Linked DNA regions of Homo sapiens. The protein of the gene in region 1 purifies or fractionates together with the protein of each later gene. This does not show direct contact. Each region holds a gene or a part of one and is shown in the gene's direction. Other genes may lie near its edges.

Region 1 (4,223 bases):
AAAAGAAAATAATTTTTTTCCTCATCCTGGATGTAGGGAACTCTGATAAAACCTGTCCACTGGCCCCAGGATGTCTGCTGTTGATGCCTATATTCGCCCTGGTCAGTGGTTGCTTATTGATCTTTTTAAACACTTTTTCATGTCCTCTCCTTTGCAGCATTGCCATGATCACTCTCAAAGTGTAGCCAGCTGTCAGAGAAGACACTAGTCAAAATTCCTAGGGAGGAAAATGTTATTCCTGTTGTCTCATGTCCCTGTTTTCCCTTTTCACTCCTTTTCATTTCCCTTTCTTTTCTCTCTCTCTCTTTTTTTTTCTTTTGAGACAGAGTCTCACTCTGTCGCCTTAAGCCAGAACGCAGTGGCACAGTCACAGCTCACAGCAGCCTCTACCTCCAGGGCTCAAACAATCCTCCTACCTCAGCCCCTGAGTAGCTGGGACTACAGACATGTGTGCCACACCTGCCTGGCTAATTCTTCCTATTTTTCACAGAGACAGCATCTCACTTTGTTGCCCAGGCTGATCTCAAACTCCTGGGCTCAAGTGATCCTCCCACCTTGGCCTCCCAAAGTGCTGGGATTATAGACATGGGCCACCATGCCTGGCCAGTTTCCCTTTCTTTAACTTCTGTCAAATCTAAGCTGCAAACAGAATGAGACAGAAACAGCATTTGGAGAGCACTTTCAAGATAAAATGGTTCTAATGATGTTGTCTCGTGAGTCCTGGGTATAAGTTGAGTCTTCCAGGATTACGTTAGCCCCAGAAAAGGCTTATTGTGCTTATTGGGACCATGCCCACCTCACATAAACATCTTTCAGACTTTTATAAACATCTGGGGCCTCTTCAGAAAGACTGCTAAAGCTTCGATCTTTCGTTCCTTCTCAGAAAAGGAATCTCTTTGCGTTCTTTGACATGGCCTACCAAGGCTTTGCCAGTGGTGATGGTGATAAGGATGCCTGGGCTGTGCGCCACTTCATCGAACAGGGCATTAATGTTTGCCTCTGCCAATCATATGCCAAGAACATGGGCTTATATGGTAAGCTACAGCATCCAGCATGACACATGCTCTCATGCTGGGAGAGAATGCCACGAGGGCATAGAGCTTGTGGGTGTGTGTGTGTGTGTGTGTGTGTGTGTGTCCATCCATGTCCATGTCCCTCCCTACCCTAAGATGAAAGACCAGTATCGTAGATTTTACTGATTTTCTTAGCCATATATTCTTCGGTGTCCTTAAGTTTTTCCAGCAAAGGAAACTGATTACTGCTTCTCTAAACAAAAAGTAACAAATCCGTGAGCCAAGAAGATAGATACAATAAAAAATACCTTTGAATACTCTGAGTACTCAAAACTTCCTTGTGCCTCAGTTCACCACTCTGGTTGTTGAAAGCTTTTTATTTATAATAAAGTTATTTTGGGGTCCTTTGGATGGAAACAGATAATACGTAGCAAATACACTCATGATTTGCTTTAGCACATTAGATAGTAGAAGTAGAAGACGAGATCCATTTTTGTCTTTCAGGTGAGCGTGTAGGAGCCTTCACTATGGTCTGCAAAGATGCGGATGAAGCCAAAAGGGTAGAGTCACAGTTGAAGATCTTGATCCGTCCCATGTATTCCAACCCTCCCCTCAATGGGGCCCGGATTGCTGCTGCCATTCTGAACACCCCAGATTTGCGAAAACAATGGTAAAGGTTTATGCCACTCCCCAGCCACCTACCTGTTCCCACCACTGCTCCTTCAAAGTTAGTTTTTAATTGACCTCTAGTGATATACAGTACCCCATAGATTCCATATGTGGAAGGCAGGGAAGGAAGCAAAAAATGTGCATTCCTTTTTTAAAAAATTAAGGCCGGGCACAGTGGCTCACGCCTGTAATCGCAGCACTTTGGGAGGCCGAGGCAGGTGGATCACCTGAGGTCGGGAGTTCGAGACCAGCCTGACCAACATGGAGAAACCCCGTCTCTACTGAAAATACAAAATTAGCCGGATGTGGTGGTGCATGCCTGTAATCCCAGCTACTCGGGAGGATGAGGCAGGAGAATTACTTGAACCTGGGAGGCGAAGGCTGCAGTGAGCCGAGATTGCGCCATTGCACTCCAGCCTGGGCAACAAGAGCAAAACTCCGTCTCAATCTATATATATAGATAGATAGATAGATTGGTTGAGACAGGGTCTTGCTCTGTCACCCAGTCTGGAGTGCAGTGTTGCAATCCTAACTCACTGTAACTTTGTACTCCTGGCCTCAAGCAGTCCTCCAGCCTCAGCCTCCCGAGTATTTGTTAGCACTTTGAACCAAGTTAATTGATATTTCTCTGTAAGAGGCAGTCATAATTTTTAAATGGTAGTTCCTTTTATTCCGTCATCTCCGTGTTAAGTAGAACCTGCTTTCCCCTAAAATCAGTTTCAAATTAAGTACCTTACATAGGAAAACTTCCTTAAAAACATCATATTTTTGTTTGTGTCCTAATAATTGCTAGCATTGAATCCGTATTTTTGCATATGTTTGTATTTTATTGTAGAGACAGGGTCTTGCTGTCTTGCCCAGGCTGGTCTCCTCAAACTCCTGGGCTCAAATGATCCTCCCACCACAGACTCCCTAAGTGCTGGGATTGCAGGTGTGAGCCACTGCACTCAGCTTGTTTTTTATTATCTGTACTATCTGACTCTCAACATCTGTTCTCTGAATTAGTGTTACTAAATTTTTTTGACCACAATCCACATAAGAAATATATTTAAGTCTGGGCACAGTGGCTCACACCTGTAATCCCAACACTTTGGGAGGCTGAGGTGGAAAGATCGTTTGAGACAAGCCTGGGCAACATACTGAAACCCCATCTATAAAATTTTAAAAATATATATTTTACATCATGACCTTGAACATATTATATACTTATATGTGTATATAACTGAAACTGTCTTCCAGACTCAATACTAAAGGCTTCATGTGCTTTACTCGAGTTTTTTGTTTTGTTTTGTTTTTTGTTTTTTTTTAAACAGTCTTGCTGTGTCACCCAGGCTAGAGTGCAGTGGCACAATCACTGCAACCTCCACCTCCTAGGCTCTAGCAATTCTCGTGCCTCAGCCTCCCGAGTAGCTGGGATCACAGGTGTGCACAACGAGACCCAGCTAATTTTTTTTTTTTTTTTTGAGACGGAGTCTCGCTCTGTCGCCCAGGCTGGAGTGCAGTGGCGGGATCTCGGCTCACTGCAAGCTCCGCCTCCCGGGTTCACGCCATTCTCCTGCCTCAGCCTCCCAAGTACCTGGGACTACAGGCGCCCGCCACTACGCCCGGCTAATTTTTTGTATTTTTAGTAGAGACGGGGTTTCGCCATGTTGGCCAGGCTGTTCTCAAACTCCTGGCATCAAGTGAACCACCTGCCTCGGCCTCCCAAAGTGCTAGGATTACAGGCGTGAGCCACCAAGCCCAGCCTCCACTCCAATATTTTCTAAATGCCAACTGCATCTTACTAAGTTGAATTTAACATACTAAGCCAGGTAAGGTGGCTCACACCTATAATCCCAGCATGCATTTTGGGAGGCCAAGGCAGGTGGATCCCTTGAACCCAGGAGTTGGAGACCAGCCTGGGCAACATAGCAAGACTGTGTCTCTATTAAAATAAAAGAAAATAAAAAAATAAAAAATAAAAAAATTAACCTACCAATGGGTCATGACACATAATTTAGAAAACACTGCTGTAGAAAGGGGTTGGCAAACTGTTCTGAGAGTCAATCCAGTTTGCCCCCTATTCTTGTAAATAAAGTTTTATTGGAACACAGCTGTACCCATTTGTTTATGAATTTTGTATAGCTACTTCTTTGCTGCCATGGCCGAGTGAGCAGTTGTAGAAGGCAGAGACCATATGGCCTATAAAGCCTAAAATAATTACTGTTTGGCCATTTACAGAAAGAATGCCAACCCCTACTCTATGAGTTCATAAAACCATGATGCCTGTGGAAGGTGTGATTTGTTATATGAGTTTATCGTATATTTGTTATATGAGCTGCTTAGTTGAGAGGTCACATCTCTGAGCAGCTCTTGGGTAGAAAAGCTAAATCTGCTATCTCTAAGAAACTTGATATGTACCTCCCCTAGTCATCATGTGACAACTATTTTTTCTGTCTCTCTGTCCCATGAAGATTAAAGTAAATACTAAGAGTCTGGTTCAGGATAGTTTTTTTTGTTTTTTGTTTTGTTTTGTTTTGTTTTTTCCTTTTGATTTTTTAT
Region 2 (4,223 bases), on another chromosome or scaffold:
TTGGATCCAGAATCCTTGCTCCTTTTTTTTTTTTTTGAGATGGAGTCTTGCTGGGATTACAGGTGCATGCCACCATGCCTGGCTAATTTTTGTATTTTTAGTAGAGACTAGGTTTCGCCATGTTGGCCAGGCTGGTCTCGAACTCCTGACCTCAGGTGATCTGCCCGCCTTGGCCTCCCAAAGTGCTGGGATTACAAGCCAATGAGCCCGGCCCAGAATCCTTGCTCTTGACCACTATGCTATACTGCCCCATGACCTTGCCACACGCAAGACGGGCTGCCACCCACGCTCTGGTTCTTTTATTCTAGTAGAGCCAGAGGGGTGTTCATGGATCTGACAATGTGCTCCATGTTCCATGTGAGTGTCCAATTGGGCCTCAGTTCAGAGAACAGCAGGAAAATGGCCTCCCTTCTCTCTGACTTGGACTGAAGATCTGTCTGATGAACCAGGCCCACTGACAGCAGGGTTGAAGCTGGAAACACAGGCCAGCGGGGCTTTCTGAAATACTAGAGCAAACGCCCTCCGTCCATTTCCACAGGCTGAGGGGCTTTCATCTGTTCATTTTCCGGATCAGGCAAATCCAGGAGAATGGCCTTCTGTGGCTGCCTGGGGGGCTCCTAGCTGCAAGGCCTGGGCCCACAGGAGGCAGGCAGCTGTGTGGTGCCGGAATGATCTTGCGGGGAGACAAATTAGCCCGATTCTGCTCTGCTGTTTAAAGTAAATATGGGGTGGGGTGGGGTGGCTCAGGCCTATAATCCCAGCACTTTGGGAGGCAGGATCGGGGAATCGCTTGAGTCCAGGAGTTCGAGACCAGCCTGAGCCACATAGTGAGACCCCCCTTCTCTACAAAAAATAAACAAAATTAGCTGGGCGTGGTGGTGTGTGCCTGTAGTCCCAGCTACGCGGGAGGCTGAGGTAGGAGGATCACTTGGGCCCAGGAGATTGAGGCTCCAGTGAGCCAAGATCACACCACTGCACTCCAGCCTGGGCAACAGAGCAATACCGTGTCTCAAAAAAATATTAATAAAGTAAATATGAGCTCTCTCCCTGGCTGTCTGGTGTTGAGTGGAAAGAAAGGCATTGGCGGGTCTAGACCCTTTTGGTTTACATATGGATGAGCAATGATCCAGAGAGGCTAAGTGACTTCAACATCACAGAGCACATTGGCGCCAGAACTGGGACCGGAACTCAGCTTCCGTAACTGTCAGTCCCATGTTCTCTTCCCTAGATATCAGAGGGCAGGGGCAGGCCCCAAAATGTCTGAGACCCCCAGCTGCCTTGTGGCCCAAATTCTTGGCCCTGCTCTGCCTCAGACAGTCTGCTTTCAGCGTCCTGACCTCTGACCATCGCCTGTGCATGCCAGGTCTTGCATCTGTCAGGCGGGAGTTCAAGGATCATTGTCGCCAGATAATAATAGTCAGGAGCTCAGGGACCCTTGGATGAAAGGTGTCAGAGACAAGCCGTCAGTGACGCACGAGGATTTGGATAAGGTCCTGGAGCGAGGTGGCAATGTTGGGCACGGCGGCAGACCATGCCCAACATGGGGGAAGGGAGTGTATGTGGTTCAGGCTTGTGCGTGTCTCTGTGTGTGTGTGCAGGTGAGTATGGCGTGTGCTGGGATATATTTATGTGTACCTCTGTGTGAGTGTGCAGGCCCATATGTGAGTGTGCACACACATCTGTGAGAGCCTGCATGCATGTACACGTGTGAGGTGTTGATACATGTCCATGTAGGTATCAGTTTGCCTGTAAATATCTCTGTGTAACAATAACAAAGTCCGAATAGTCATCAAGAGTATAGACATGAAGCCAGACTGCCTGGGTTAAATCCCCAGCTAGTTAGTCTTTCGGTGCCTCTGTTTCTTCCTCTGCAAAATGGCGTCTACCCCATCAGGATTTTAAAATCAGTTAATATGGCTGGGCGCCTGTAATCCCAGCACTTTGGGAGGCTGAGGCAGGCGGATCACAAGGTCAGGAGATCGAGACCATCCTGCCTAACATGGAGAATTCTGAGAATTGCTCAAACCCAGGAGGTGGAGGTTGCGGTGAGCAGAGATTGCACCACTGCACTCCAGCCTGGGCAACAGAGCCAGATTCCATCTCAAAAAAGAAAAACAAAAAACAAAAAAACCATGAACTCATTTTCAGGTTGAGGAGCTCAGCATCCTGGTTGTGAAATACCCTCCTCATAAAACCCTGGGATGGAGACTACGGGGATCAGGTGCTTCCTTGTGACAACTTCTGGGCATGGTGGCTCAGGGCGCAAACTGGAGTGTGGCCACAATACATACTGTGTACTTTTACAAGGATGTCACAGAGCCTGGGTATCATAAAAGAGGAGCTTTTCAAGGAACTGAAACCATTAGACAGGAGAGAGAGCCCTGGGCAGACAGGGTTGCCCGTGCCAAACATTTCAGCTGTGGCACAAGGGAAAGGGTGGGAGTTATGAAACTGTTCCATTTTGGGTTTAGGTCTGGGCTCTGCCGCTAGCTAGCCAAGTGACCTTGGCCACTTATCTCTGTGGTCTTCCATGAGTAAAAGGCGGAAACTCACTCCTACCCAGAGGGCAGGTCTGACTCCCTTTAACCAGCACCCACCTGCTCACAGCAGGAAGGACTGAGGTCTAAAGCTGGAGGTGGGCAGGAAGGACTGAGGTCTAAAGCTGGAGGTGGGCAGGAAGGACCAAGGTCTAAAGTTGGAGGTGGGCAGGAAGGACCGAGGTCTAAAGCTGGAGGTGGCTGCTCAGAGTCCCAGCAGAGGCCTCTGGGGCACCTCACTGAGTGCCTGGCAGGAGTGGGTGCCTGTCTCAGGGCTGGGTTGAGTTGCTCCCACCAGGACCCTTCGTCATCTGCACAGTGAGGGGACTGGGAGGTTCAGAGAGTCACAGCTTGGGCTCAAAACAAGCAAGAGGTTTCTGAGTGTGAGGATTGCTCTGGAGTGGAATGGCCCTCACAGGTAGGAGTGAGCCTCCTGTAGCTAGAGGTATTTAAGCAGCTGAAGGACAATCCCTGGGCAGGAAGCTGCAGAGATGGTCGCAGCGTGGACTAGAACTGCTGTTTTGGTCACTCAGACCTCATTCCAGCCTGGCTTCTCTGGACAGCACCCCTGCAATAGTGAGCTGGTGACTTTACGCCTCAGAACCTCGGTTTCCACATCTGTAAAATGGGAATTATATGACACTCACTATGTGCCAGACACCCTGTTGGTACATAGCACACACTATCTCACTTAATCCTTCAAGTAGGGACAAGTTATCCCCATCCCTTATATGAGGAAGCTGAGGCACAGAGAGGTGAAGTGAATGGCCCAAGGTCACACAGCTGGGAAGACAGGGAGCTAAACTTGAACTCTAGTCTGGCTGCCCCCAGACCTCACACCGCACCTCCCATGCCGACTCCAGCCTTCCCTGTGCCCACAGGCTCTTTAAGGGTCACCCAGAGACTCTGGAGAAGTTTGACAAGTTCAAGCACCTGAAGTCAGAGGACGAGATGAAGGCGTCTGAGGACTTAAAGAAGCATGGTGCCACCGTGCTCACCGCCCTGGGTGGCATCCTTAAGAAGAAGGGGCATCATGAGGCAGAGATTAAGCCCCTGGCACAGTCGCATGCCACCAAGCACAAGATCCCCGTGAAGTACCTGGAGGTAGGAGCAGAGCCTGGGCAGGTGGGAGGATGCGGGGAAGGCCTCGGGTGGGGCAATGGGATCTGGGTTCGAGTCCAAGCTCAGCCACTAACTTGTGGGATGACCTATGCCACTCTTCTCTGTGCCCCAGGTTTCTCATTTGTAAAGGGGACTGCCACCCACTTTGCCTTCCTCCTGGGATTGTTGAGAATGAACACACTTAGCATTTTTAATTTAGTATGCCAAATTCACATCTTATTACCAAAGAGGAAAGGGAGAGGGGATATTGGGTGCAAAATTTGCATCCTCTCCATGGGTAGGTACCATTATCATATCCACTTGATAGATGGGGAAACTGAGGCTCACAGAGGTTAAGCAGCTTGTCCACGGTCACAGGAGGTGGATAATGGCAGAGCCAAGATTCAAACGCAGGTCTCTATTACTACAGAACCCCAGCCCCTAACTGCTGTGCCACTGGGAGTCTGGTACATGCAGGACTTATGTGGCAGGAGCTCAGCAAGTGGGGCTCAATTTGGGGTGGGGGTGACCAGCAGGTTGGCTCTATTGGTTCCAGCATCTTCACAGATGAAGAGACAGGACCTC
Region 3 (4,223 bases), on another chromosome or scaffold:
GCGATTCTCCTCCCTCAGCCTCCTGAGTAGCTGGGATTACAGGCGTGTGCCACCATGCCTGACCCTTTTTGGCAATGTTTAAAAACTGAGATAAAATTCCATAAAGCACAGCATTTTAAGCTCACAATTCAGCTGCATGGAGTACTTTCTCAGAGGTGTGCAGCCAGACCTCTGCTTCCAGAACATTTTCATCCCCTGAAAATAAACTCTGTTCCCATCAGAGTCATTCTCCTTCCCAGCACATGGCAGCCACGCATCCCCCTCCTGTCTCTGTGGATGGGCGTGTCCTGGACATTGCATAGAAATGGGGTCAAACCTTCCCTGTGTGGCCTTTGGTGTCTGGCGTCTCTCACTGAACGTGACGTCCTCAAGGCTCATCCATGCTGAGGCCCGTGTCAGCCTCATTTCTTTTCCTGGCTGAGTCCTATTCCAGAGGGCTCCCTGCAGGAACATGTGGAGCTCAGATCCCCCCGGCTGAAGGAGGCAGGCTGAGGCAGGGAGCCCCTCCAGGCACCAACCAGGATGGAGTCGGGGGTTGGGGGTGGGGCGCAGATTGAAGCCTGTGCAGAATGAGGATGGGGTGGGTGGAGAGGGCACAGATTGGAGGCTGTGTAGAATGAGGATGGGGTGGGTGGGGAGGGTAGATTGGAGGCTTTGTAGAATGAGGATGGGGTGGGTGGGGAGAGCACAGATTGGAGACTGTGTAGAATGAGGACAGGGTGGGTGGGGAGGGTATACTGGAGGCTGTAGAATGAGGATGAGGTGGGGAGGGTAGATTGGAGGCTGTAGAATGAGGATGGGGTGGGTGGGGAGGGTAGATTGGAGGCTGTGTAGAATGAGGGTGGGGTGGGTGGGGAGGATAGATTGGAGGCTGTGTAGAATGAGGATGGGGTGGGTGGAGAGTGCACAGGTTGGAGGCTGTAGAATGAGGATGGGGTGGGGAGGGTAGATTGGAGGCTGTGTAGAATGAGGATGGGGTGGGTGGAGAGGGCACAGATTGGAGGCTGTGTAGAATGAGGATGGGGTAGGTGGGGAGAGTAGATTGGATGCTGTAGAATGAGGATGGGGTGGATGGGAGCGTAGATTGGAGGCTGTGTAGAATGAGGATGGGATGGGTGGAGAGGGCACAGATTGGAGGCTGTAGAATGAGGATGGGGTGGGTGGGGAGGGTAGATTGGAGGCTGTGTAGAATGAGGACAGGACGGGTGGGGAGGGTAGATTGGAGGCTGTGTAGAATGAGGACAGGACGGGTGGGGAGGGTAGATTGGAGGCTGTAGAATGAGGATGAGGTGGGTGGGGAATGTAGATCGGAGGCTGTAGAATGAGGATGGAGTGGGGTGGGGAGAGTAGATTGGAGGCTGTAGAATGAGGACGGAGTGGGAGGGGAAGGCACAGACTGGAGGCTGTGTAAAATGAGGACAGGGAGGAGGGGAGGGCACAGATTGGAGGCTGTGGAATCAGCTAGCTGGGGTAGGAGGAGGAGGAAGGTGCTGGGCAGAGTCCTGGTGGAACTGGCGGAGCTGGTGCAGGTCTGGGCTGGGGACGAGCTAGGCAGGTGGCAGGTGTGGGAGTCTGTGGGGTAGTGGCTGTGGAGGTTTGGATGATGCTATCTCCCGGGGAATGTGTCCCACCAGAAGGGGCCCCAGCTGTTTCCCCTCAGGCAGGTCTTTACCAGCATGTTCTCTGAAGGACCAGCCTGATGGCTCATAGCCTTCTTGGGGTGCAGACATCTGGGAATCAGACAAAAGCTGTGCACTCTCTTCCACCTGCCCGAACACACATGCATCTGGGTCCACAGCCCCTCCCCAAGTCTCCCCAGACACCGCCCGATTCTGCCCCTGCCGCCATCCTCTGTCAGGCTCATGGTTTATGGGCTTATCCCGGCTCCACTCGCCCCACTCATTCTCGTAACCCCACTGCCTAGATCCCAGCTCGATCTGGGCAAGGTCATGAAGGGAAGGAAGCCGTCAGGCCCCCCGGTGGGGAGGGGGTCGGGGGCTTCAGGAATCTTGTCCCTTCTTCCCTGATCCTTGGCCCAGAATGTCTCAGCCCAAACAGTGGGTATTTCTTGAGCCTTTATTTTGTGCAGACACTTTGGAGGGAGAAGTCCAAGCTATAGCTCCACCACTGCGGTCAGGTTAAAGCACGTTGACAAATGGGAGGCAGAGATCAGGGAGTGGCGACGTTTAACTGAAGGACAGGGTGTGATTTGCTGCCTCGTGTGGGTGTTGTCCCGCCGTGCCCTGCGGGGCGCTTTACAAACAGCAGGTGTTTCTGGGGAGATTCTCACCCACTCCATGGAACTGGCTGCATCACAGGCAGGCCAAGGCCCCAGGAGGCATCAGGAGGGTCATTGAGAGGAGATAGGCCCCATCAGCCCAGAGAGACCCTGCAGAGGCCGCCCTGTAGTCTTGGGGAAGCCCACGGTCGCCATCGTCTGTCTGCAGGCCACTGCCCTGCATGGACCCCTGAGTGCCAGCTCCCCAGAGGGCATCTGGGCAGGTGCAGGTCTGGAGCAGTTGGGATGGTGGCTGGGCTCACCTTGAGCCTGAATCCTCCTGTCCAACCCCCACAAAAGCTCCCCAGGGGCATGCTCAGCCCCGGAGACCTGCCACCCCAGGCCTCCTCATCTCAGACAGTGACTGGACCCTCCCTGACCAGGGCTGTTGGCAGTGCTAGGGCTTAAAGAAGAATCTAGGGCTCCCTGGATACCCCCGCCCCACCCATGCACATAGAACCCCAGCCAGGGCTTCCACAGAAATGGCCCCCCTGCTGCCCCTCCATCCCCATCACACTCTCTTCACACCAGAGATGCCATCATCCCCTGCTGTCACCTTCCGACACCTTCTGCCACTCCAGTTCCTTAGAAGCCTCCGTTAGCAGCCTTCTAGAGACCTGGGCAGATGATCCTCCCCACTTCTTAAGTTAACTCCTGTACTTCCTAGTCAATGCCCTCTGAGAAGCCTTTACTGGCCTCTCATTGCCCAGCCCCAGCCCCCGTCGTAGTACCTGGATTGCTGTCAGCAACCAAGAAGCCATGTGCAGTGAATGGACATGGGGTCCTGTCCCAGAGCAGCTCCCAGCCCACAGGGGAGAGAGGCGTGTCTATGAATGAGCTGGAAGAACATTCTGGCACAAAGGGGCCAGGCACAGTGGCTCACACCTCTAATCACAGCCCTCTGGGAGGCTGAGGCGAGTGGATCACTTGAGGTCAGGGGTTCAGGCCAGGCTGGCCAACATGGTGAAACCATGTTTTTACTAAAAATACCAAAATTAGTCAGATGTGGTCGCGGGTGCCTGTACTCCCAGCTACAAGGGAGGCTAAGGCAGGAGAATCACTTAAACCCAGGAGGCAGAGGCTGCAGTGAGTGAGATTGTGCCATTGCCATCCAGCCTGGGCAACAGAGTGAGACTCGTCTCCAAAAAAAAAAAAAAAAAAAAATTCTGGCACAAAAGAAAGAGGGTCTGCTGTTGAGAGGGCCCCATCCATCCTTCCCAGTCAGCAGGTGCTCGTGCTCGGGAATGGCGTCCATGTTGAGAAGCAGGCACGAGACCTGCTGACCCCAGCCCGAGTCCCTGGCGGGGCTCCTTCCAGGGCACACAGACCCAGACCCAGCAGGCCTGGCCTGACTCCCTCGCCCCCTCTTCCTCTGCAGGCCCCAGGGGAAGTCCTATCTGTACTTCACACAGTTCAAGGCAGAGGTGCGGGGCGCTGAGATTGAGTACGCCATGGCCTACGTGAGTATCTTGGAGTGGGGCAGGCTCCGGGTGTGGCTTCTGTGCACTGGGGCAGCTGTGAGATGTCCTGCCACAAGAGGGCTCCATGGGGACAGGGAGGAGAGGGGACAGCGAATCCTGCAGAGGTAGGGTGTGTAACTTGCAGGAACCTGGCACACAGACGCCCCCAGGCCAGGGGCACGGGGGTTTGGTAACCTGTTGCTGCTGGCTTCTCTTGTATATGCCAGAAAAGACTTCTCCAGGCCAGGCGCGGCGGTTCACGCCAGTAATCCCAGCAATTTGGGAGGCTGAGGCAGGAGGATTGCTGGAGGCCAGGAATTTGATTCCAGCCTAGGCAACATAGCAAGACCCTATATCTACCAAAAGTAAAAAAAAAATAGCCAGGCGTGTTGGCATGCACCCATAGTCCCACCTACTCAGGAGGCCGCAGCAGGAGGATCACTTGAGTCCAGGACTTTGAAGCTGCAGTGAGCTATGATTGCACT
Region 4 (4,223 bases), on another chromosome or scaffold:
AGAGACAGGGTTTCACCATGTTAGCCAGGATGGTCTCGATCTCCTGACCTCGTGATCCACCTGCCTCGGCCTCCCAAAGTGCTTGGATTACAGGCATGAGCCACCGCGCTCGGCCAGGGCTGCACACTTTTTTAAATTAAACTTTTTATTTTGAGGTCATTGTAGACTCACATGCAGTTGTGAGAAATAGTACAGAGATCCCAATACCCTTCACACAGTCTCCCCCAGTGGCAACATCCTTCGTAACCATGGTGCTCTATCACAACCTGGATGTTGATGTTGATACAGTCGGTCCCACCACCTGAGGATCCCTCATGCTGCCCATTTTTCAGAGGGGACACTGAAATCTGGGCAGCCCCCAAGGTGAGGGGACCAGGGAAGTGATGGAAAGGAGGAGCTGACCTGGGGGAGGCAGCGCTCCGGGGACCTGGCAGGGTCTTCAGCATCTGCTGGGTTGTCTGATGCCCAAGGTTGGAGTCAGTCTCCGTGTGGGAAATGCAGACAGGCAGATGGAGGGGGCTTTCCCATAGTCAGCACCTACAGTTTTAGGCGTTGCCTCAGGAAGCTCTGAGTGCCTCATCACTGATGGTGTAGAAGAAGCTGTCATGGGGCCACCGAGTCAGGCTGAGACAGTGGGAAGCCCTGGTTGGTGGAGGCAGGCTGAAAGGCCCGTCTGCTTTTCTGGAGCTCCCTGTCTCTCCTGGGCTTCCCTGTGATTTCTCTGGATTCAGTCCAGAGGAGGGAAATGAGTGGGCACTGCCGAATAGCCCGTGGATAGCAGGGCATTCCCTGCCAGCCCTCTGCCTCCTCCTGCCTTAGCAAGGGTACTATGTGAGACTGCGGGAGGAGGACCCCCAGCTGAGATTCATCAGAGCAGGGCATCTGAGCCCTGGTTTGGGGCCATGGTCTTCTCTCTGGGAGAACTAAGGACTCTGCAGGCAGACACTTCACCTGTTGAGAGGGAGAGAGAAAAGACAGAGAGTCAGCATGTGGAGAAATGGTTGGGGCAGAGAGCCCAGGTCACCTGGACTAGTGCTTTTGGGTTCTTTTTTTCATCTTGATGAAAAATTTGCAATGTTTAACTATTGTCACAGAACAAATAAAATGGTGACTAAGTTTTGCAAATGTCATGGCTGAGTCTATGTTTTTCAAAGAGATTTTCCCAAATTTTTCTTTCTAATGATGCCTGGCTAGTCTGCTGGTTCATGGACATCACGTTGGTGCTGTTTTTCTTTAGAGGTAGTGGGATGACAGATAGGGGTTAGAGGCCGTGGGGTGTGCTCTCTCTGGTACTATTTGCTGCATGAAGGAGGCAGTCTTTTGGTTTTTCATTTTTCATTAAAAAAATTTATTTTTTATTTTTTATTTTTATTTTTAAATTTTATTATTATTATACTTTAAGTTTTAGGGTACATGTGCACAACGTGCAGGTTTGTTACATATGTATACATGTGCCATGTTGGCGTGCTGCACCCATTAAGTCGTCATTTAGCATTAGGTATATCTCCTAATGCTATCCCTCCCTCTTCCCCCCACCCCACAACAGACTGGATTAAGAAAATGTGGCACATATACACCATGGAATACTATGCAGCCATAAAAAATGATGAGTTCATGTCCTTTGTAGGGACATGGATGAAACTGGAAACCATCATTCTCAGCAAACTATTGCAAGGACAAAAAACCAAACACTGCATGTTCTCACTCATAGGTGGGAATTGAGCAATGAAAATTTTTATTTATTTTATTTTTTTATTTTTTGAGACAGGGTCTTGCTCTGTCACCCAGGCTGGAGTGCCGTGGCGTGATCTCGGCCTGCTGCAGCCTTGACCTCCCTGGCTCAAGCAATCTTCCCACATAAGCCTCCCAAGTAGCTGGGACTGCGGACATGTGCCACCATGCCTGGCTAATTTTGTTTATTTTTTGTAGAGGTGGGGTCTCACTATGTTGCTCAGGCTTGTCTCAAACTCCGAGGCTCAAGTGATCCTTCCACCTCAGCCTCCCAAAGTGCTGAGATTATAGACGTGAGCCACAGTGCCTGGCCTGGTTTTTCATGACATGAATACAAACCCTGATAGTTTCAGTTTTACAAGCCTCATGTGGCTGTCAAGTCTTGAAAGGCAAAGGCTGTATGGGATGAAGAGGAAAGAGCAGAGTGGCCTGGGATGCACTGAAGGGAGGGGAGGCTGCTTTGGAGCTCAGGGGAGTGGAAGGAAGGCCGATGGCGGGGGCAGGGCACACCACTGCACTCTGCTTTCCTGAGGCGTCCATCTGACCTCTGACTTAGAAACACAGTGGATTCATGCCAGGCCCCTGTGGCAGTCCTGGTCCATGGCTGGAGTTTGGAAATACCTGACCTTTGCTCTCTAGGTGACAAGTGACCTGGGCGGCAGATCAGCTCCAGATTCTAATGAACTCTCCCCCATGTAAGGCTTTTTTTGTAGGCCCTGGAAACAGATTGGGAGAGCCGATCCCCATTTCCAAGGCCCATGAGCACATTTTTGGAATGGTCCTTATGAACGACTGGAGTGGTAATTACTGGAGCTCTGCTCCTGTAGAGATGACGGGGAGGAGGCTGGGGACTTGGGGCAATTTCATAGAAGCTGAAGATCTGGTGCAGGTCAAAAGTGGCAGGTGATGCAGTGACTGAGAGTGGGGGTCTGGGTATCAAACAGACTTTCAGCTCTAAGAACTCGGGCCACTCACTTAACTCCTCTGAGCTCCAATTTTCTCGAGTGGCTAGGGACACGGCTGACATCATAACTAATATTTACTGAGCACTTATGTGTCAGGCCCTGTGCTTAACACCCTTCGTATATTCTCCCGCTGATCCCTACACGGTATGTGCAATATTATCTTCCCATTTTACAGATGAGGAACTGAGGCACAGGGAGATTTCAGTTAGTTGCTGAACTAAGATTTGAAGCAAAACAGTCCAGCTTCTGAGCCTGAGCTCTCAACCCTTTGCCATACGTGGGAGGAAGATGGCACCATAAGCCCCAGAAAGTGTCTCTCTCATAGTTTGAGAATGAGCTTCCAGCCCCTTCCTGGGAGATATCCTGACCACCGTTTGGTCATCCTTCTCTTTGCTGTAACCTGGCACAGTGCCCTCAAAGGACCTCTGTCCTTGGCATTGAATGCTCTTGCCCCTTTGTCCTGGGGCAGCCTGACTGGGGCTGATCTTTGTGGAGATGGCAGTGCTAGGTGTCTCTGCTCCTTGGTCAAGGGCAGGAGGGGGTCGTTGGGAGATGCCCTGATCAGCCTTTGTAAGTCCTGGCTGTGCCCTTCTTCTGCAGCACGAGACATTCAGAAGTGGGAGTATGTCCCTCTCGGGCCATTCCTTGGGAAGAGTTTTGGGACCACTGTCTCTCCGTGGGTGGTGCCCATGGATGCTCTCATGCCCTTTGCTGTGCCCAACCCGAAGCAGGTAAGCACATTCTCTGCAGGAAGCTCCCAAACCCAGCCCTGCTGCCTCTGAGGCTGCTTGCCCACTGAGTGGACATGCCAGGCATGCAGACCATCAGGAGGGAAGCTCTGTGCCCACGGCATGCCCACAGCAGAGTGCCTGGGAGTTCCTGGCCACGATTACTTCCAGGCAGCCAGGGCATCATTCTCCCTTGTGGTTTCCCTGGCCCTGGCACAGTTCTTGGAGAAAACACAGAATTTTGTAACCTTAAGAATCTTGCAAGACCCGGGGGATCTGGCCAGTTGGCAGGAGGAGTCCCTGCAGGTACCAACATTGCACAACCTCCCAGGTGGCCATCAAATCTTGTTCTGTGCAAATGGCGCCACCTGGACCCCAACTCATAGAATGCAGCTTGGAGCCCAGCAACAGGGAGTCCCTGCAGCCTCTGGTTCCCGGCACCGCTTGGTCTACCACTGGGTCTAGGCCTTGACCCCTGGTTCCAGTCCTCCCTTCTCAGCCTGTTGCAATCTGCCCCACTCCATCACTGGCAACACCTGGCCAGAGTCACCTGTGACCCGATAGTCAGTGTCATGACCTTGTGTCCCCTTCAGCATGGACTTCCTGTGGCCCCTCACTCTTGTTGGCATTCCCTCACCCCTTGGTTTCTGGCATGTGACCTGTCCTCGTTCTCCAGTGTCTCTGAGTCCTCACGATGCCCCTCTCCAATTCTGACCTCCCTGTGGGGATCCAGGCTGAGCTCCCAGCCATTTGCACATCCTCGCTTGAGCATCTCACCACGCATTTGCTGGGGGCCTCT
Region 5 (3,898 bases), on another chromosome or scaffold:
TTTCTTTTGCAGACTCATCCTCCTCTACCTGGCCATTAATGATGGGGTTTCTCTAAATTTGGTCCAAGGTCTTTTCACTCTACATTTTTCTCCCTAGGCTAATCACAGAAGTCTCCTAGAGATACCCATTTGTGTCACTGGTGTATAGGTAAAAATAGAACCTTTGAATTTCTGTGGAGATTCATAGATTCTATTTTTGAGCTCTAGACAAGTTCATCTAACTGCCTGATAGACATTCATTCATGAATCCATTCATTCAAGAAATATATCACAGCCTCCATGTGTAAGGCACTGTTCTGTGCTCTGATCATACAGCAATGAAAAAAACAAATCACTGCTCTCATGGAGCTTATGTTCTAATGAAGTAAATAAATACTATAGTAGAAGGTAGTAAGTTTTATGGAAACAAGGAAAGCAGGATAAGGGGATTCTTCCATGGATGAGAAGTTGGAACAGTGTTACAATTTTAAATAAAGTAGTCAGGTTATGCCTCACTGCAAAGATGACAGAAGATGAAACTTCACAGCTAGACTTAGACTTGGCTTTAAAGCCAAGTCGGAGGCTCCAGGGTAGGGTCCTTGACATGTTCAAGGAACAGCAGTAAGGCTAGTGTGTCTGGAGTGAGAAGAATAGGAAGGGATATCCAAGAGGGTACTGGCATCCAGGTAGTGTAGGGCAGGGGTTGGCAAACTTTCTGCAAAAAGTCAGGTAAGCATTTTAGCTTTTGTGGGCCATGTAAGGTCTCTTCCCCATAGTTTTCCCTTCTCTCTCTTTTTGAGAAAGGAGTCTTTAATAATGTAAAACTCATTCTTAGCTTATCCTCCTTAAGGACCCTAGGCTGGATTTTGTCCTCCCCTCTAGCTGTCCATAGTTGCTCAATCAACCCATGGTATAAGACCTTGTATGCATTACAAAGAGGCACCTCACACTCAACCTGTGTATGCCTGTTGCTTATGTTTCCTGTCTAGGCAGGTGTCTAGTATTGTTCACCCAGTTACTCCGGCCAAAAGCCTGTTAGTCATCCATGAGACCTTTTACTGTTGACCCTTTATAACAAATCCGTTGCCAATCTCTATTAATTTTACCACCTAAATTTCTCTAGTATCTGTTTCTATCTACATCATCGCTGTAGTCTAAGCATGAACAGTAGTTTCCTAACTGATCTCTGTACATCTACTTTTGCTCTCTTTCAATTCTGTCTTGACACAGCTTCCAGATTGATCCTTTAGAATCATGCCAACCTTTCTGTCAGAAATATTCATGACTTCTTCATGAACAGATTTGTCACGTTCCTACAGTTTCTCTGGTCTCATTTTATAGACACTGCTCTTTTCATTCTCTGCTTTTCAGTTCTTACATGTCATACTGCTCCCTCTTATCCAGAATCCTGGCACCTGCCCTTTCCTCGCCCTGGGATACTTTTTTCTTCTGCCCTGCACTTCTCACCATCCTGTAGACTTTAGTTCAAACCATTCAGCAACTATATTTGGATACCCAGTTTTTGTCAGTCCTGTTCTAGGCACTATGTGAACAAATAACTCAGATAAAATACATCATAAACTTCCTCTTGCAGAGTTTATAGGCTAGTGCATTTATTGTTGAACTCCATAAACCCAGTCAGTTGTGAATAAAATAAATATTTGCAACACCAAGTGTCTCATTTTTGAAGCAGGTACATTTGCCTTTCACATTTATTTGTGTGATTTTTTGACTAATTTCTGTTTTTCACAATATGCTACACACTCCATGAGAATAGGGACTCTATTCCTCCCTCACCCCACCATCATTGCCTCTCTAGCAGTGAACACAGTGCTTGACACATTAACAGGGATTCAATAGGCAGTTTTTGAACTGATACCTTAATGAGTTAATTGATTAAAAAATTAAAGTTGTGACCTTAATTTCCTCCTCAGGACTCCATAAGATGGACTTATATTTCCTTCCATTTTTTTCTGTAAATACATATACATTAATATTTATATGGCTTTTTATTACTTACCAGCTTTGGAGTAGATAATTCTTCTTTTAGGTCATGTAAACATGTTGTCAAAATTAAATTATGATTTTTTCAAGTTAAAATAAAATTACACTGAACACACATTTTGGACTTTTTTTAACCAAGAAAATTAGGTTCTTCTAACTACAGAAGTTTAACAGTCACTTTAGGAATTTATTACTATTAAGAATATGATAAGAAATGACTATTAAAAGTCACATATAAATACAGAAATAAAATTTTTTTTAGAAAAATCAATTTATTTATTTATTCCTGTACTACCCACTAAACAAATTAGGTAACTTAAAACTTAAGCTTAAACAAGATCTTCAGAGTAATCAATGGTGAAGCCAGGAGTAAAATAATCAAAATTATTGCTAGTTATTGAGACCTAGTTAGTTAATTCATATTAGTAAGTCAGTTTCTATATGGTTATTATGATGTATGGAGCTTTTTTAAATCCTTTATTCCATCCTCTGTGTGACATAAAAGTTTTAGACTGCTTTGAAATGCATTGTATTACTAAAATATTTATTTTAATCTAGATTTTTTGATTCATCAGGTGATTCTGGACAAGGATTAAGAATGTGGATCAAGCAGGTTTTAAATCAAGATTTAACATTCCAACACATAAAAATTATTTATCCAACAGCTCCTCCCAGGTATGCAGTAATTTATCTCACTTGTCAATATAACTCTGTGGCATAAAATATATATAGAGAGATGTGCCAGCTAGGTGTTCTTTAAGCTTAATTTTGTATTTAACATACTTTAAATTAGAGTACTTTGTCCCCAGAATGTATTCTTTATTGCAGTTACACTGTTGGACCAAGTTTTGCCAGGTGAGTAATTTATTCCCTTTCTGTAAAGCATTCCCTAAAGCTCTGAATTTAAACTGTGTCCCAAGCATGGCTTATGTAACTCTGCTTCCTCTTGCCCTGCAGATTGCTCAACTTTCATACTTCTTCCCTACATTCACCCCAAAAGGAAACTTAATAACTCCAACAAGTATAATCTTTCTAATAATTTAGTTAAGCCAGAATTCATAATCTCTGGGAAAGGGTTTTATGGCATTCTTTCCACATTTAAAAGGATTATCAAGAAACAATGTTATGCTTTTTTAATCAGTAAACCAGAATAGGAAGATAGAATTGACTACTTAATAAATATTTAGGTTATATAACCTGTAGGTGTGTGCAAAAAATTCACAGTAATAAAACTGCTATAGTTTTGAGGTCAAACTACTCTTTGTAAATATTAAATTAACATCTGCATAGTCTTTTATTCGGAACACATGCCGTAAATCAGGGATTGGGATTTTTTTTTGGTTAAGTGAAATGATGTGTGGAGCTACGCCCCAATCTGATTTTTCTCATAATCTGTTCTTGATTTTTTTTTGTTTCTTTTTCTTCTTCTTTTTTTATTTTTTCCAGACAGAGTCTCACTCTGTTGCCTAGGCTGGAGTGCAGTGGTGCAGTCTTGGCCCACAGCAGCCTTTGCCTCCCAAGTTCAAAGGATTCTCCTGCCTCAGCCTCCTGCCTAGCTGAGAATACAGGCATGTGACACCACGCCCAGCTAATTTTAAAGACAAGGTTTTGCCATGTTGGCTAGGCTGGTCTGGAACTGTTGACCTGAGGTGATCCACTCACCGCGGCCTCCCAAAAGTGCTGGAATTACAGGCATGAGGCACTGCACCTGGCCTGTTCTTGATTTTTTTCTTATCAGGCATACTATGCAAATGCCTTGCTTTATATTTTCATTAACTTAGTATTAAGGAGAAATAAAACCAGAACTTCAAGGACGTTTTTATATGTACTAATAAGAATTTACTTACTTTAATTGATAGAATTGAAAAAGGGAGAACAAAATGATAATGTAAGACTGAAGACTCAAAGGAGTTAT
Region 6 (4,223 bases), on another chromosome or scaffold:
CTATGTTGGACAGGCTGGTCTTGAACTCCTGACCTCAGGTGATCCACTGGCCTCCCAAAGTGTTGGGATTACAGGCATAAGCCACCGCACCTGGCCAAAAAGATTTTTTTAATTAGCCAGGTGTGGTGGCGTGTGCAGCTGTTTGGGAGACTGAGGTGGGAAAATCACTTGAGCCCGGAGTTTGAGGCTGCATGAGCTATGATCATGCCATTGTACTCCAGCCTGGGTGACAAAGCAGGACCCTATCTCAAAATAACAAAACCCAAACCCTTTATTTTTAAAAAGTTAATATGTTTACTGTAGGAAACTGAGAAACACAAGAAGCAAAGAACAGTCATCCACAATCACAAGCAGTTTACAGTTTGACTTGTCCTTCTAGGTCCTGTGTGTACATAGACACAGTATCCAATTTTATGGGATTAAGATCACGCAGTATGTATCGTGTTTTATCACACATTATGGATATTTACTAATTATATTATTATATGTTGTCACATCAAGACATCTATGAAGCTTAGGTGTTGCAAAATAATAAACTCTGTCCACAATAAACACAAGTACTTTACTAAAAATGCACCTATAGACCTGTGGTTTTTCATCTAAAACCATCTTCTAGATATGGAGATTCTGACTAAGAGCCCTTCCTTCCACCCGTTCTTCTTTATCCTGTTCTGTCATTCCAGTGACTAAGTACAGGACTATGTCTAGTTCTAAGAGGTCAATTAACAAAGGTCACTCCCAGAGGATAGTCCTTCTTAAGAACTGAAAACGTGAATAAATGTTACACGTACATAATAAGCTGCCATTTGAAAGTGTCATCTAAATAGGAACGAACATTCTGGCATAGAACCCTTCCCACCTGTCAACTCAGTGGATAGATATAAGCATTTGTAGTGCTTAGAGGGGACTTTAACAATTTCACTTCCCTAAGTGTTTTTAAGAACAGTCTTTCCTATGAATTTGAACACAAAATGTACTCAGTGTATTAGGTTACTGACTCTACGTTGGTCATACGCTGTCAACCTCTTTAACATCTAGAACTAGATGTTGTAAATTAGGGCTCATTTGTCCTTCATATACACTATATACATAGCAAAGTAAAATAAAATGCATGGACATAAGGTACAGTGGTCAATCTTGCCTCACTGTAAACACATTGGTATAAAGCCCTTTGCACTTTATTCTCCTCCTTTTCTCCTGACGCAGTACAAATGTAATGATGTGTACTGCTTAGAGAAGTGGTTTGATCATTACATTTCCAAAAGGTAATATTTCAGTGAATTTTAACAAAAGGATATCTACAAAATGTGTTACTTACTACCCTACTTTTAACATACTTTGTGCACTTCTAAACATCTAGAAAGTCTCGATGTTTTAAATAAGGACTTAAGTCTGTCCACTTTATACACAGTAGATTTTTAAAAATAGTTGTGGTATCATATTTACCATAACATGCTTTCCTCATTCTACATTATTATATTTTGCAGAGTTTTTCATGTTAGTACATGTAGATTTTATTTACCTGTTATAATATTCCATGGAATGGATATAGCATACTTTAACAGTTACCTGGCTGGTGCAGTGGCTCACACCTGTAATCTGAGCACTTTGAGAGGCCGAGGTGGGCAGATCACGAGGTCAGGAGATCGAGACCATCCTGGTTAATATGGTGAAACCCCATCTCTACTAAAAATACAAAAATTAGCCGGGCATGGTGGCGGGCGCCTGTAGTCCCAGCTACTCGGGAGGCTGAGGCAGGAGAACGGCATGAACCTGGGAGGCGGAGCTTGCAGTGAGCTGAGATCATGCCACTGCACTCCAGCCTGGGTGATAGAGCGAGACTCTGTCTCAAAAAAAAAAAAAAAAAAGAAAAACAGTTACCCTATTTATATTTATTTGAATTGTTTCTATTTTTTTGCTCTTACAAATAGGGTTAATGTGATCAGCATCATATATATGTTCCCAAAATGTCTGTACACATTTGTCTGTGATGAATAATGGAAGAAGCAGAATTCCTTGGAAGAAGAGCATGCTCATTTATATTTTAATAGACAATGCCAAGTTTCCTTCCAAAAAGCTCATACTAATTTATAATTTCACCAATAATGTAAAGGTACCTTTTTCTGTATTGCCTCAACTCTTGATATCAGTCTTTTTTATATTTACCAATCTTTTGGACAAAAAATAATGCCTCCATATTTTAATTTGTTTTTTCCTTATTACCAGAGAGGTTGAAGGCCTTGTGGAAGGTTGATAGCAATAGTTAGCTGTGAGTTTATTTAGTCCACATTTGTTTATTGAGAGCTTAATGTGTGCCAGTCACTGTTCTAAGCACTGGAGTTAAACAGTGAACAGACAGGCAAAAATTCCCACCCACATGAAGTTTGTAGTAGGAGTTGTCCATTCATAACCTCTGCCCATTTTTCTATTGGTTTGTCATTTTCTTTCTTATTTTCAGGATATATTCTAGATATTTTGGTATGTATGTTGCAAACATTTCTTCTAGTTTATTCAGCATCGCTTTACAGTATCTCTTTTTTTTTTACACAAGGATTTATTTTATTTTATTTTTGGACAAGGTCTCACTGTGTCACCTAGGCTGGAGTATAGTGGTGCAAATTGCAGCTCACTGCAGCCTCGACCTTGTGGACTCAAGTGATCCTCAGCATCCTGAGCTGGGACCATGGGCATGCACCACCATGCCTGGCTAATTTTTAAAAATTTTTTGTAGAGATGAGGTCCTGCTGTGTTGCCCAGGCTACACAGGATTTAAATTATCATGGCAAAATATTAATCTTTTCCTTTTGAAGTTCTATTTTATGTCTTGTTTAGGAGTCCTTTACTCCTAGGATTTACTTTATTTTTCTTAGAGATCAGGTCTCACTATCCCAGGCTGCTCTCGAACTCTTGGGTTCAAGCGATCCTCCTGTCTCAGCCTCCCAAAGTGCTGGGATTACAGGTGTGAGCCACTGCGCCCAGCTATTCCTAGGATTTAGACATAATCACCTATATATTGCTCTTACTAATTTTTGGTTATATAGTTATTTTATAATTTTGGTTATGTTTTTTAATCTGGAAAAATTAGGGTCATTATTTCTTTGAATTCTTTCTTTAGCTCTTGTTCTCTCTTCTCCCTCTGGGATTCCAGTTATGTGTGTAACATTTTCTATTGCCCCACAGCCCTTAGATGCTGTTGTTATAGGGTTTATTCCCCCACTTTTTTCCTTTTTGCATTTTCAGTTTGTGTAATTTCTATTATCCTATCATCAAGTTCACTGACTGTTTCCTAGGCAGTACCTGTTTTGTTGAGAAACCTATTGAAAGTGTTCATTTCTTTTACCATATTTTTGGTTTTTAGCATTTCTCTTAGAGTCTTTTTATAGTTTCCATCCCTGAAATTATGTATCTGATTTTGCATGTTGTCTGTCTTTTCCATTAGAGTCTTTAGCATTTTAATCATAATTATTTTAAATGCCCAAGCTTTTGGATCCAGCATCTGTCATATTTGAGTCTGGCTCTGGTGATGGCTTATTCTCTTCACACTATGTTTTTTGCCTTCTGGGATGTTTTCTACTTTTTGGTTAAAGCTAGACATATTATAAGGGCCAGTAGATACTGAGGGATAGGGATTTGTAACAATCTAGTCAGGAATTGGGCTGTTGTTTGAAGTCTGTTGTTGCTGTCTGTGAGGTTTGTTGTTGCTGTGGGCACCAGAGACTTCAAACCCCTCTAGCAACTTGTTTTTGTCTCCTCTCTTGGATTTGGGTCTTCCCTTTGTACCGTTTCCCAAAGAGTCTATCTGTTGTGGCTCTCCCAGCTGCAATTTCCTGTTATTCTTGGAGATTCGATGGTGGGGTGTGGGAGAGGGGGTCGTTCTCTAATGTTCTGCTTCTCCAAATTTGAACTGGTACCGTGGGCCTGTGTCTCAAGGGTAGTCATTTGTCTCAAGGGTAGCCAGTTCTTCTAAACACAGTAAATTGAATGAGAAATTTTTTCCTCACTCATAATTGTCATCTTTATTATCTACCTTTTTGTCTAATTGTCACCTTTGTCTATCTTTTATCATATAATATACAAAATTCCTGTTTATATATACAGTATATACAGGTCTGTTTTGGGACTCTGTTTTGTCTCAGTGATACATTTGTCTCCATTCTCAAACCATGTTGTTTTATTACTACGTTTTGTAATATATTTTGATATCCAGTAGTGTATCTTCTCCT
Region 7 (4,223 bases), about 11 Mb from region 1:
AGTGCGGCGATCACGGATCACTGCAGCCTCAACCTCCTGGGTTCAAGTGATCCTTCCATCTCTCAGCCTCCTGAGTAGTTGGGACTACAGGCATACACCACCATGCCCAGCTAATTTTTGTACGTTTTGTAGAGAAGGGATTTCGCTTTTGTCATGTTGCCCAGGCTGGTCTTGAACTCCTGGGCTCAAGCAATGTTCCCGCCTTGGCCTCCCAAAGTGCTGGAATTAGAAGCGTGAGCAACCGTACCTGGTCAACAGTCTCTAAAAATTTTTTTTTATGACAAGGTGTCACTATGCTGCCCATGCTGGTCTCCATCTCCTGGCCTCAAGGGATCTTGCCGCCTCAGCCTTCCAAGTAGCTGGATTACAGGCTCCAGCCACTGTGCCCAGCCAGTTTAACTCATTCTTTTTTATATATTTTTTACTTTTATCTTAATTTATTTATTTTTCTGAGACAGGGTCTTACTCTGTCACCCAGGCTGGAGTGCAGTGGCAAGATCTCAGCTCACTGCAACCTCTGCTTCCTGGGTTCAAGCGATTCTCCTGCCTCAGGCTCCCGAATAGCTGGGATTACAGGTGCCCGCTACCACACCCAGCTAATTTTTGTATTTTTGTAGAGACAGGGTTTCACCATGTTGGCCAGGATGGTCTTGATCTCTTGACCTCGTGACCTGCCCGCCTCAGCCTCCCAAAGTGCTGGGATTACAGGCTCGAACCACCGTGCCTGGCCAACTCATTCTTGTTAACAGCAAAATATCCTGTAGTGTGGATGTACCCATAATTTCTTAAAATGTTCCCCATAGACAATCAGGTTATATCTAATTTTTGCCAGTGAAAAGCATGGTGTAATACACATCTTTGCTCTTATAGCCTGAAGCTTTTAGTCTGTAGAACAGATTCCCCCAAATTGGAGAGCGAGATAAAAGATTTATGTGTCTTTAAAGTTTCAAGAGATTCTGCCTCATTACTTTCCCTAAAGGTTGAGGCAGTTCTTATCCCCACCAGTAAGGTGCCAATTTTTCTGTTGGTACAATCTTAATAACCCTGGGTGTTATTTGTTTTACATTTTGTGGGTAAATGTAAACTCACGGTAAATGTAAACACAGTACCCATGTAAACGAATGGGTAAATGTCTCATTTTAATTTTGCTTTTCCTGACAGGTCACGCAGAGCATCTTTTTTTTTTTTTGAGACGGAGTCTCCCATTGTCACCCAGGCTGGAGTGCAATGGTGCAATCTTGGCTCACTGCAACCTCCCCCTCCCGAGTTCAAGTGATTCTCCTGCCTCAGCCTCCCAAGTAGCTGGGATTACAGGTGCCTGCCACCACACCCAGCTAATTTTTGTATTTTTAGTAGAGACAGGGTTTCACCATGTTGGCCAGGCTGGTCTCAAACTCCTGACCTCAGGTGATCTGCCCACCTTGGCCTCCCAAAGTGCTGGGATTACAGTTATGAGCCACAGAGCCCAGTTGTCAACATTATTTATTAAATCAGCCACTGATTTAAATGCTTCCTTTAATCTTCAGTGCTTTTAAGGGGAAAATACATTTCTGGCTACAGGAGATGGAATGCAATAACCTAATGTCAAACAAAGCCGCCCCCTCCTTTACAGACTGCAACTCCCCTGTAGCTGAAGGTTTGCTGGTTGGTAATGGGTTTTCCGTGTGTGCTTTGTGTGTGTCTCTGTAGGCAGAAGAGCACTGATCGTACTGGCTCACTCAGAGAGGACGTCCTTCAACTATGCCATGAAGGAGGCTGCTGCAGCGGCTTTGAAGAAGAAAGGATGGGAGGTGGTGGAGTCGGACCTCTATGCCATGAACTTCAATCCCATCATTTCCAGAAAGGACATCACAGGTAGGAGGAGTTCCTCCTCCCCTCTTTAATTAGTTCTTTGCGGATCTCCTTGCCTGTGGGTCCTCTGGCCCAGCTTTGGCCCCTCTGGCCCCAGCCTCTCTTTTTCTTCTCTGCAGGTAAACTGAAGGACCCTGCGAACTTTCAGTATCCTGCCGAGTCTGTTCTGGCTTATAAAGAAGGCCATCTGAGCCCAGATATTGTGGCTGAACAAAAGAAGCTGGAAGCCGCAGACCTTGTGATATTCCAGGTATGGGGGGACATCGGAAGGGGTGTCAGGGACATTTGCGTGCTTATTGTCCTAGACATGTACCTAATTAGCTATGAGATCTTAAACAGTTACCCACTTTACTGCATTCTCTGCAAATAAGGGTGATTACTTTAAAGGTGCAGTATTACATGGATTTCACAGATATTGGGAATCTGGCTGTATTACTGTTGCATGTGTAAATGCAACTGCAAGGCCAGGCACGGTGGCTCACGCCTGTAATCCCAGCACTTTGGGAGGCCAAGGCAGGTGAATCACAAGGTCAAGAGACCAAGACCATCCTGACCAACATGGTGAAACCCTGTCTTTACTAAAAGTACAAAAATTAGCTGGGCGTGGTGGCATGTGCCTGTAGTCCCAGCTACTCTGGAGGCTGAGGCAGGAGAATCACTTGAACCCGGGAGGTGGAGGTTGAAGTGAACCAAGATTGCGCCACTGCACCCCATCCTGGTGACATGGCGACAGAGCGAGATTCTGTCTCAAAAAAAAAAAAAAAAGAAAGAAAGAAATGCAGCTGCAGAGATGATGTACAGTCCTTGAGCTTGCTTTCTTCCAGGTACTTAGTCTCCCCTTCAGTTAGCGATTCCTTCAGTTAGCGATTCCTTCAGTTAGCGAATCCTGCGGTTAGCGATTCCTGTTGGACTCTCTCAAAATTTGCAGTTCTCCTCCTTTCTCCATAAGAATCCCAAATACTTTGTAGAATAATCCATGAGACATTGACTTCTCTGCCATTGTAGCCTGCCAGCTGAAGGGGGCTTTGAAACCCTGCTGAATGTGTTCCTGCAGCAAACCACGGCCTTTCTTCTTCGGGAAGCTGCCTTACCGTTTAGCAGACAATGCTGGGATTGTGCGTGCATCTCGTCAGTGATCTTTCCTATAAATGTGACTGTACTCAATGACTTTGCTTTTACAATTCCAGCCAGTCTTTTGATATTGAACATAGAATGTATATGATCCTGGAAACCACGAGGAGGGTGGTACAGGCTGTGTTTTTTTTTTCTCTCTCTCTCTCTTTTTTTTTTTTAGTTATTCAATCAGCTACAAAACATCCAATCCTTGAAGTCCTTTATTTTACCCACAGGCCTGTTGCTAAGAATCAAAGCCACATGCCACTAGCCAGTACCCCAAAGGACGGCTTTAAAAAAAAATTAAATTGGAGACAAGGTCTCACGGTCACCCAGGATGGAGTGCAGTGGCATGATCTCTGCTCACTGCTGCCTCAACCTCCTGGGCTCAAATGATCCTCCCACCTCAGTCTCCCGAATAGCTGGGACTATCAGTGCACACCACCATGCCCTGCTAATTTTTTAATTTTTTTGTACAAATAGGGTCTCACCATGTTGCCCAGGCTGGTCTCAAACTCTTGGGCTCAAGTGATCTGCCTGCCTGGACCTCCCAAAAGGCTGGGATTATAGGCATGTGCCTTTCATATCTTTAAATCATGAATCAAGGATAAGAAAACCTCCTGGTATAGTCCTTACTCTGCTTTTATTAGGATAAGAGGTCAGACAAGACTTTCTCATGGGAAGTCCCTGATGAACCTTAGTCACCCTAATTATTATTTATTATAATTTTTATTTTTTAACATTTTATTTATTTATTTATTTGTTTTTGAGATGGAGTCTCGCTCTGTTGCCCAGGCTGGAGTGCAATGGTGCAATCTCGGCTCACTGCAACCTCCGCCTCCCGGGTTCAAGCCATTTTCCTGCCTCAGCCTCCCAAGTAGCTGGGACTACAGGCATGCACCACCACGCTTGACTTTTTGTATTTTTAGTAGAAACAGGGTTTCCCCATGTTGGCCAGGCTGGTCTCAAATTCCTGACCTCAAGTGATCCACCCACCTTGGCCTCCAAAAGTGCTAGAATTAAAGGCATGAGCAACTGCACCTAGCCACGTTGATGATGATGATGATTATTATTATTATTATTATTATTATTTAGAGATGGAGTCTTGCTCTGTCACCCAGGCTGGAATACAGTGGTGATCACAGCTCCCTGCAGCCTCCAACTCCTGGGCTCAAGCAATCCTCCTGCCTCAGCCTCTCATATAGCTGGGACTAGAGATGTGCACCATCACATCAGGCTAATTTTTAAATTTTTTTGTA

The links.
Region 2: the proteins of GOT2 (region 1) and MB fractionate together in Homo sapiens (co-fractionation; one large-scale study listed by BioGRID). This does not show direct contact.
Region 3: the proteins of GOT2 (region 1) and MYDGF fractionate together in Homo sapiens (co-fractionation; one large-scale study listed by BioGRID). This does not show direct contact.
Region 4: the proteins of GOT2 (region 1) and FAH fractionate together in Homo sapiens (co-fractionation; one large-scale study listed by BioGRID). This does not show direct contact.
Region 5: the proteins of GOT2 (region 1) and LYPLAL1 fractionate together in Homo sapiens (co-fractionation; one large-scale study listed by BioGRID). This does not show direct contact.
Region 6: the proteins of GOT2 (region 1) and METTL6 purify together in Homo sapiens (pull-down; one large-scale study listed by IntAct). This does not show direct contact.
Region 7: the proteins of GOT2 (region 1) and NQO1 fractionate together in Homo sapiens (co-fractionation; one large-scale study listed by BioGRID). This does not show direct contact.

The regions. Positions count from the first base shown.
Region 1 is NC_000016.10:58,713,474-58,717,696, reverse strand, and holds part of GOT2 (aspartate aminotransferase, mitochondrial isoform 1 precursor), read left to right. Parts: intron 1-883; coding exon 884-1,034; intron 1,035-1,517; coding exon 1,518-1,683; intron 1,684-4,223. UniProt on the Homo sapiens protein: Catalyzes the irreversible transamination of the L-tryptophan metabolite L-kynurenine to form kynurenic acid (KA). As a member of the malate-aspartate shuttle, it has a key role in the intracellular NAD(H) redox balance.
Region 2 is NC_000022.11:35,610,302-35,614,524, reverse strand, and holds part of MB (myoglobin), read left to right. Parts: intron 1-3,418; coding exon 3,419-3,641; intron 3,642-4,223. UniProt on the Homo sapiens protein: Monomeric heme protein which primary function is to store oxygen and facilitate its diffusion within muscle tissues.
Region 3 is NC_000019.10:4,660,184-4,664,406, reverse strand, and holds part of MYDGF (myeloid-derived growth factor precursor), read left to right. Parts: intron 1-2,328; coding exon of another isoform or gene 2,329-2,686; exon of another isoform or gene 2,687-2,701; intron 2,702-3,656; coding exon 3,657-3,738; intron 3,739-4,223. UniProt on the Homo sapiens protein: Bone marrow-derived monocyte and paracrine-acting protein that promotes cardiac myocyte survival and adaptive angiogenesis for cardiac protection and/or repair after myocardial infarction (MI).
Region 4 is NC_000015.10:80,169,718-80,173,940, forward strand, and holds part of FAH (fumarylacetoacetase), read left to right. Parts: intron 1-2,431; coding exon 2,432-2,531; intron 2,532-3,296; coding exon 3,297-3,427; intron 3,428-4,223.
Region 5 is NC_000001.11:219,176,589-219,180,486, forward strand, and holds part of LYPLAL1 (lysophospholipase-like protein 1), read left to right. Parts: intron 1-2,558; coding exon 2,559-2,658; intron 2,659-2,811; coding exon of another isoform or gene 2,812-2,838; intron 2,839-3,898.
Region 6 is NC_000003.12:15,417,507-15,421,729, reverse strand, and holds part of METTL6 (tRNA N(3)-cytidine methyltransferase METTL6), read left to right. Parts: intron 1-4,223. UniProt on the Homo sapiens protein: S-adenosyl-L-methionine-dependent methyltransferase that mediates N(3)-methylcytidine modification of residue 32 of the tRNA anticodon loop of tRNA(Ser), including tRNA(Ser)(UGA) and tRNA(Ser)(GCU).
Region 7 is NC_000016.10:69,716,001-69,720,223, reverse strand, and holds part of NQO1 (NAD(P)H dehydrogenase [quinone] 1), read left to right. Parts: intron 1-1,689; coding exon 1,690-1,854; intron 1,855-1,970; coding exon 1,971-2,101; intron 2,102-4,223. UniProt on the Homo sapiens protein: Flavin-containing quinone reductase that catalyzes two-electron reduction of quinones to hydroquinones using either NADH or NADPH as electron donors.